Linked DNA regions of Homo sapiens: region 1 is linked to region 2. Evidence: fine-mapped expression QTL. A gene starts in region 2. The other region holds a variant in brackets. All regions are shown on one strand. Distances are between the middles of the regions. Region 1 has its middle 22 kb from the start of CTAGE6. Region 2 holds the start of TCAF2 (TRPM8 channel associated factor 2).

Evidence for each region.
Region 1: its variant is fine-mapped to the expression of TCAF2 in whole blood (TOPMed, PIP above 0.99).

What each region holds. Positions count from the first base shown.
Region 1 is chr7:143,734,089-143,736,999 of GRCh38, reverse strand. No RefSeq gene overlaps it. Among named protein-coding and RNA genes, the nearest start is that of CTAGE6, 22 kb to the left of the region's middle. The variant C/T (reference allele first, on the strand shown) is at 1,541.
Region 2 is chr7:143,619,653-143,622,563 of GRCh38, reverse strand. TCAF2 (TRPM8 channel associated factor 2) reads right to left here and starts at 1,590. Exons shown (of 8, transcript NM_001363538.2): 1 at 1,544-1,590. It also overlaps a transcript of LOC101928466 not described here. RefSeq lists a silencer at 1,526-1,685.

The DNA.
Region 1 (2,911 bases), 110 kb before region 2:
TCAGGGACTTTAAGGCATTCAGGGGAGGAAATACAAGCAGGGTCATTTTAAATAAAGGTAGGGTCATCTTTAAGGCTGGTCGCTGTTGCTCATGCCGGCAATCCCAGCACTCTGGGAGGCCGAGGCTAGGTGGATCATGTGAGGCAGGAGTTCGAGACCAACATGGCCAAACCCTGTATCTACTAAAAATACAAAAATTAGCTGGGCATGGTGGCAAACACTTGTTGACCCAGCTATTTGGGAGGCTCAGGCAGGAGAATCACTTGAATGCAGAAGGCAGAGATTGCAGTGAGTTGAGATTTCATGACTGCACTCCAGCCTGGGCAACAGAGCGAGACTCCATCTCAAAAACAAACAAAACCACCACCACCAACAACAACAATAAAAACCCACTTCTTTAAAACTTAAAAGTGACCATTATTATTTCCCTAAAGTATTCTAGGGTGATTTCTGCCTCTTGAAATGTCTCCAGTTTGTTGGGAATTTAGATTTTACAGCTATTGGAGCTAATAACCTATGGGAACGTATGTGGTCCCTTATCCAATGCTTTTAGACATAATGAGAGGAGTTGGGGCATCCTTAAAAAGGATAAAAACCTTGAGTGTAAGACCTGCTTCCTCTAAGACTCCATCAAGCTCTTATTTTGAATCGCAGAATCTTTAAAACCCTCCAGTCTAGGTTGGACACGGTCTTGGTATTGGAAAAAAAATCAATTGTATATCCTGAGCGAAGTGTTCCTTGGATGAATGACCTTTACTGTAAAGTAACTGCTTTTTGTGTAACTAGGAATAACCTGATTGGTTTTGGCAGTTGGACTCTGCTTGCTCTGTGATTCAGTATTCAGACACATAGTCTAATGCAGGCAGAGTTACAGGCGATGGCAGATCCAGTAACTCCATAGGACAGTATGCTGGCTGAGAGTGTGGGCTCCAACTTCTAGGGTTGGAAATGTGGCTTCACAGCTTACTAGTTCTCAGCAAAATGAAGAGTGTAATTGTACTTACTCTGTAGGAATGTTGTGAGCATAAATAAATATAAAAGCACTTAAAACAGTTTCTGAAAAGAAGCGGTTTATTGATGATTCACCTAACTTACACTGATATCCTTGGGAGTAAATGTGGTCTGGAAAATAGATTTTTAGGGTCATTGCTTGAATGGGATTATGAAATTATATAAATGCACAATATATTTTTTGTTATAACTCCCGTCTGCTACAATAATTCACGGAATCTTCCCATATGTAACTTTACTAATTCAAACCTGAATGGTCCTCATTTTAACTACCTGTTCAAATGATTTGTTATTTAAGACAAAAACTATGTGGCTGGGAGTAGACTGCATGATCCTATTAAAAGAAGTATCATTTGTGAGGGTGAATCAGTCTCATGCATTGAATATGTATTTATCTAAGTGAAGCACACAGCTGCTTAGGTTCCAGTCTGCAGACCCAGGAAAGCATTGTTCCAACTGAGTGCCTTACCTAAGTGCTGAGAATTTTTTTTTCATCATTGTGAGTGTCCTTGCATGGCTTGGTTCTCCA[C/T]AGTGGGGCCAATTACACTGGACTTTAATTTCCAAATCTCCACCTAAGTTTTTCTTTTTTAGCAACAGAGAGTGATATGGCCAGGCTTTGTGTCCCCACCCAAATATCACCTTGAATTGTAATACCTAGGTGTTGAGGGAGAGAGCTGGTTGGAGGTGATTGGATCATGGGGGCCAGTTCCCCCCCATGCTGTTCTCGTGATAGTGAGTGAGTTCTGAAGAGATCCGATGTTTTATTAAGTGTTTGGTAGTTTCTCTCTTGCTCTCTCATCACTCACCTGCCACCATGTAAGACATGCTTGCTTTCCTTTTCGCGATGATTGTAAGTTTCCTGAGACTGCCCCAGGCTTGCAAAATTGTGAGCCAACTAAACGTCTTTCCTTTATAAATTACTCAGTCTTGGGTATTTCTTCATAGCAATGTGAAAATGAACTAATACAGACAGTTAGTTGTTTTAGGGCTATTAAGGGCCTAGGAATAAAAAGCAGTGGCTTTGTTGTTGTTAATTCTCCCCTTCCATCTGTACTGCACAATAAAGATGATTGGGTTTTTTTCAGATTATTCTTGATGAAAAGGACAATACATTCAAGAACATTTTATAAATTTGTTGGTAGCCTAGGAAAAAGAAACAAAGGGATCTTTCTTATTGAATTTTAAAACAGAAATGGCTTATCAAACTGCTCCATTGGGCTGCCTTTGGGTTTATCCTCTTGATATGAGGTAATATGATATTTGAAGTGGTGTCTGGGAAGCTGTTCCTCAGGTAAGCTCTTGGTTACTCCTCAGGGTGAGGACTTTTTCTCTCCATCTGTTACTCAACTTCTTTGTTCTCTAGATCTCCAGCTTGAGAGATAGTTTACAATTTCTATCTTAATTTTTTCTCAACACCATTTTTCCCAACCTATGCTTAACATTGCAAAATGATGCTCTCTCCCTTTATCATCTTGAAGAGTTTATAGAGATGATGGTTATATTTTTTTATGAAAAAAGTTTCTCATGGCTTTCCCAAATGAAAAGTGAATCAGTACAAAGAGTTGTGTGTAGAAAATGTAGGAACTTCTGCAAGCTGAGTACGGGACCAAACTGTCCTCCTACCAGAACTGGGAAGTGCACCAATCTTGCACAAGAAGGCTTTTCAAAATGGAAGCCAGGCATGGTACTAAAGACCTTGCAGCAGGAACAAGTTCATGAAAATAATATCCTGAGAAACGCAATCATGCCATGCCTATAAGGAGATAGCATTGACTGAAAAGTAGCTCTCCTTCTTTGGAAACCTTGACCACATTTAACGTCTTGGCTGACCTGCTGTTCATGTGCTAGCTACGTGCTGCTGAGGCCATATTAGCGGGGGGCACTTTTGATCTTAGATGAA
Region 2 (2,911 bases):
ATAAAGCAAAGAATATGTCTAAAAATGCCTTGTCTGGGGTTGGTACACATACAGTGAGCACGGAATAAACGAGAGTGTCTGTCCCTTTGCTGTCCTTTTAAGTTTCCCGGGTTGCCGAGGGCAGCGTTGCAGATTGCAGTAGTGCAGTAGTCCCCTGGCTGCCTGTGCCGCCTCCCTTTGCGCGTCTCTGACGAGCCCACTGTAAGGGACTTTCCTCTGTGCTCTGATGGCTTCTCACCTCTGCAGGTGCACAAGGCAGCCCTGAAGTAGCGGTGAGTTGACACTAGGGTGAGCTTCGCCCAGTAGAGCGGGGATTCACAGAAGAGTGCCCCGTGGCTTTCCCGAGGTGCCCATCAGAGGTCCTCGGAAGGCACCCGGAGGAAAGGAGCGCCATGTGGAAGACCCTCAGCCACATGCTCCTCCTGGCTTTCCCTTTTTTCCTTGTCTCATTCTCTCCACTTCCTCATTTGGGCTTTTTGGTCTCACTTACCCCCAAAAAATTACCTGCAGGTAAGCCCTTGCATAAGGCTTTGCTTTAGGGCAGAATCTAAACTAAAACACACACCAAGCCCTTGAGCCACAAGTGCCTCCTTCCTCTCTCCCTCCTGCTTCTATATGCAGTCAACCACCTCATTTGGTTAATCTCTCACCATCTCTCTCAAACATCAGTCCCTTTAGTTGGCAATCATTCCAGACTAAACCAATATGGTTTTAGTCCCCAGGATGTATTCTCATCCACAATCGTCCTCTACAAGAACTCTAACAAGAACCGTTACATTTCGTCCACTCTCTCTAAGGTGAAACTTGCAGAGCGCCTCAGCCTGGCTTCTCCAGGGTCTGGCATGCCAGTGATTACTGGACGTTTTTCCTGCTACTTTCTTCCACTAAATCTCTCCAAGCTCGGAAAGGTTGGCATTCTGAGCATGCCCTGCATTTCCTGTAGAATTCCATCTCTTCCCCTCTTCCCTTCCTATCCGCCACCTTTTTCTTAATACTGCTCGCGGGAAAGAAATTCACAAAAGAGAGCCAATACTCGGCAGAGCATTGAGAATGCGGGTACCTGATCTCAGCCTCAGAAGTTACCAGTGGAAAAAAGCAGCCGAGAGAGATCCGGAAGCCTGAGCTCAAGATCGTGCTAGCTACCTCCCAGAAGACAAGCGACGTCTTTCACTTCTGGGGCAGTACCAGTTTGACAGGATAAACAAAAACAGACAAAAAACCTCAGATGAGTAATATGTCCCGGAAAGCTGACCCAGCATTCCGCAACGAAATGTGCCCTCGTGCACGCACACACCATGCACATCTTTGTCAAATTCGTAATTTACAAGTTCAAATAGGAGGGAGAAACGTGTTTTGAGACAAACTGCAAATAGCACCAGACTAACAAAACGAAATGAAACCAAAGACCTAGACCTAAGAAGGGAGGGACACCCCCTGACGCCGGGTATGGTCTGGGGCCTCCAGCACTTTGCGGCGACCCCCAGTGCCCTAGGTGCTCAGCTACCGCCCCCACCCCAGGACCCGCTGGGATTGGAAAACTCACCCCTGAGCAGTGCGGATACCTAGGGACTGACGGACAGGCTCTGCAGTGGCGCGCGGGGGACGGGTCGGAGGCGAGGCGGGGCGGGGCGGTCCCGGAGGCGGGGCGGTCTCGGAGGTAGGGGCCGTCCTGGAGGCGGGGCCGTCTCGGAGGCGGGACTGTCCTGGGGACTGAGCTGTCTCGGAGGTGGAGTCCTGCGGTCCCGGAGGCGGGTTGTACCGTAGGCGGGGCTCTCTCGTAGGCTGGCCGGTCCTGGAGGAGAGGCTGTTCTGGCGGCGGGGCTGTCTTGGAGGCTAGGAGGTCTCGGAAACTGGGCTGTCCCGGAGGCGGGGCACAGGCTGGGGTGAGGCGGAGCCGACCCTGAGGCGGGCCCGGGGCGCGGCTACCGCTCCCTGAGCCACGCCCGTGGTCTCCCGTTCCATCGGTGGACCCCACCTCGGGCCGTGCTGCGGGCTCTCGGGGCGCCTACCAGGTGAGCGACCCCGCCTTCCCGGAGGGATGCTTTGGCCTGCATGGGGCCCCAAACCGGCTCCCTCAGGGTCTCTGCGGGTTCTTGGATGCGAGAGGGGACCCAGCCAGTTTGCTGTCGCACTTGATAAGAAAAGCAAACCCTAAGTCTCCAATAAACCATATTTGGGGCGAATAGTTCCCTAACAACAACGTATGCCACGGGGGAGGCCCCGCGTGGAATCAGGCTCCCTTCCCTCCGATCTTGGGGTGGGCTCAGCAGAGCCGGTAGCCGCCGCGTCGCCTCCGTCGCTCGAGCCTCTGCGTGGAGGGCTGCCCCCTAGTGGTCAGCTGCGGGCCATGCACTTCGAGCCCGGTGGATGCTTATGGCCATGGTGCGGGGTGCTCAACTAGGGCATTTTTCTCTCAAAGTATCCACAGAAATGCTGCCCAGCAAGTTATATTCTTGCTGGGAGGGAAACGTGCCTGTGGCATCACTAACACAGATTCGTCCGTGCATGGCTGGAGAAATTAAGCTAAAGCTATAGAGTGGCTGGTGCTCGAATTTCTACGCAAGAGAGGTCAGAAGGTGAAAATCAAGGTGGAAGGGTGTGGTCAGGAGGAGGATTTGGTGTAGTCTGGAGTTTAGGAACGTCTTACCTAGGAAAGTGATGACTGTGCTAGAATGAGGGGAAAAAAGTAGTCTGTCTGCATTTTGCCCACCATTGAGTCCTCATTGCCTATTTTCATTTCTGACATAGAATAGGCTTTAGTTTCTTAATAAATAACTAAATATATGCTAAATAAATAAGGATATAGTGAACGTCCAAAAATATCTGTCGAATTAGTGAGTTAATAACTGACTCTTCGGAGGACTAGTGGAAATCTGATTGGCAGAGGACCAAATACATTCAGGTTTCAGAA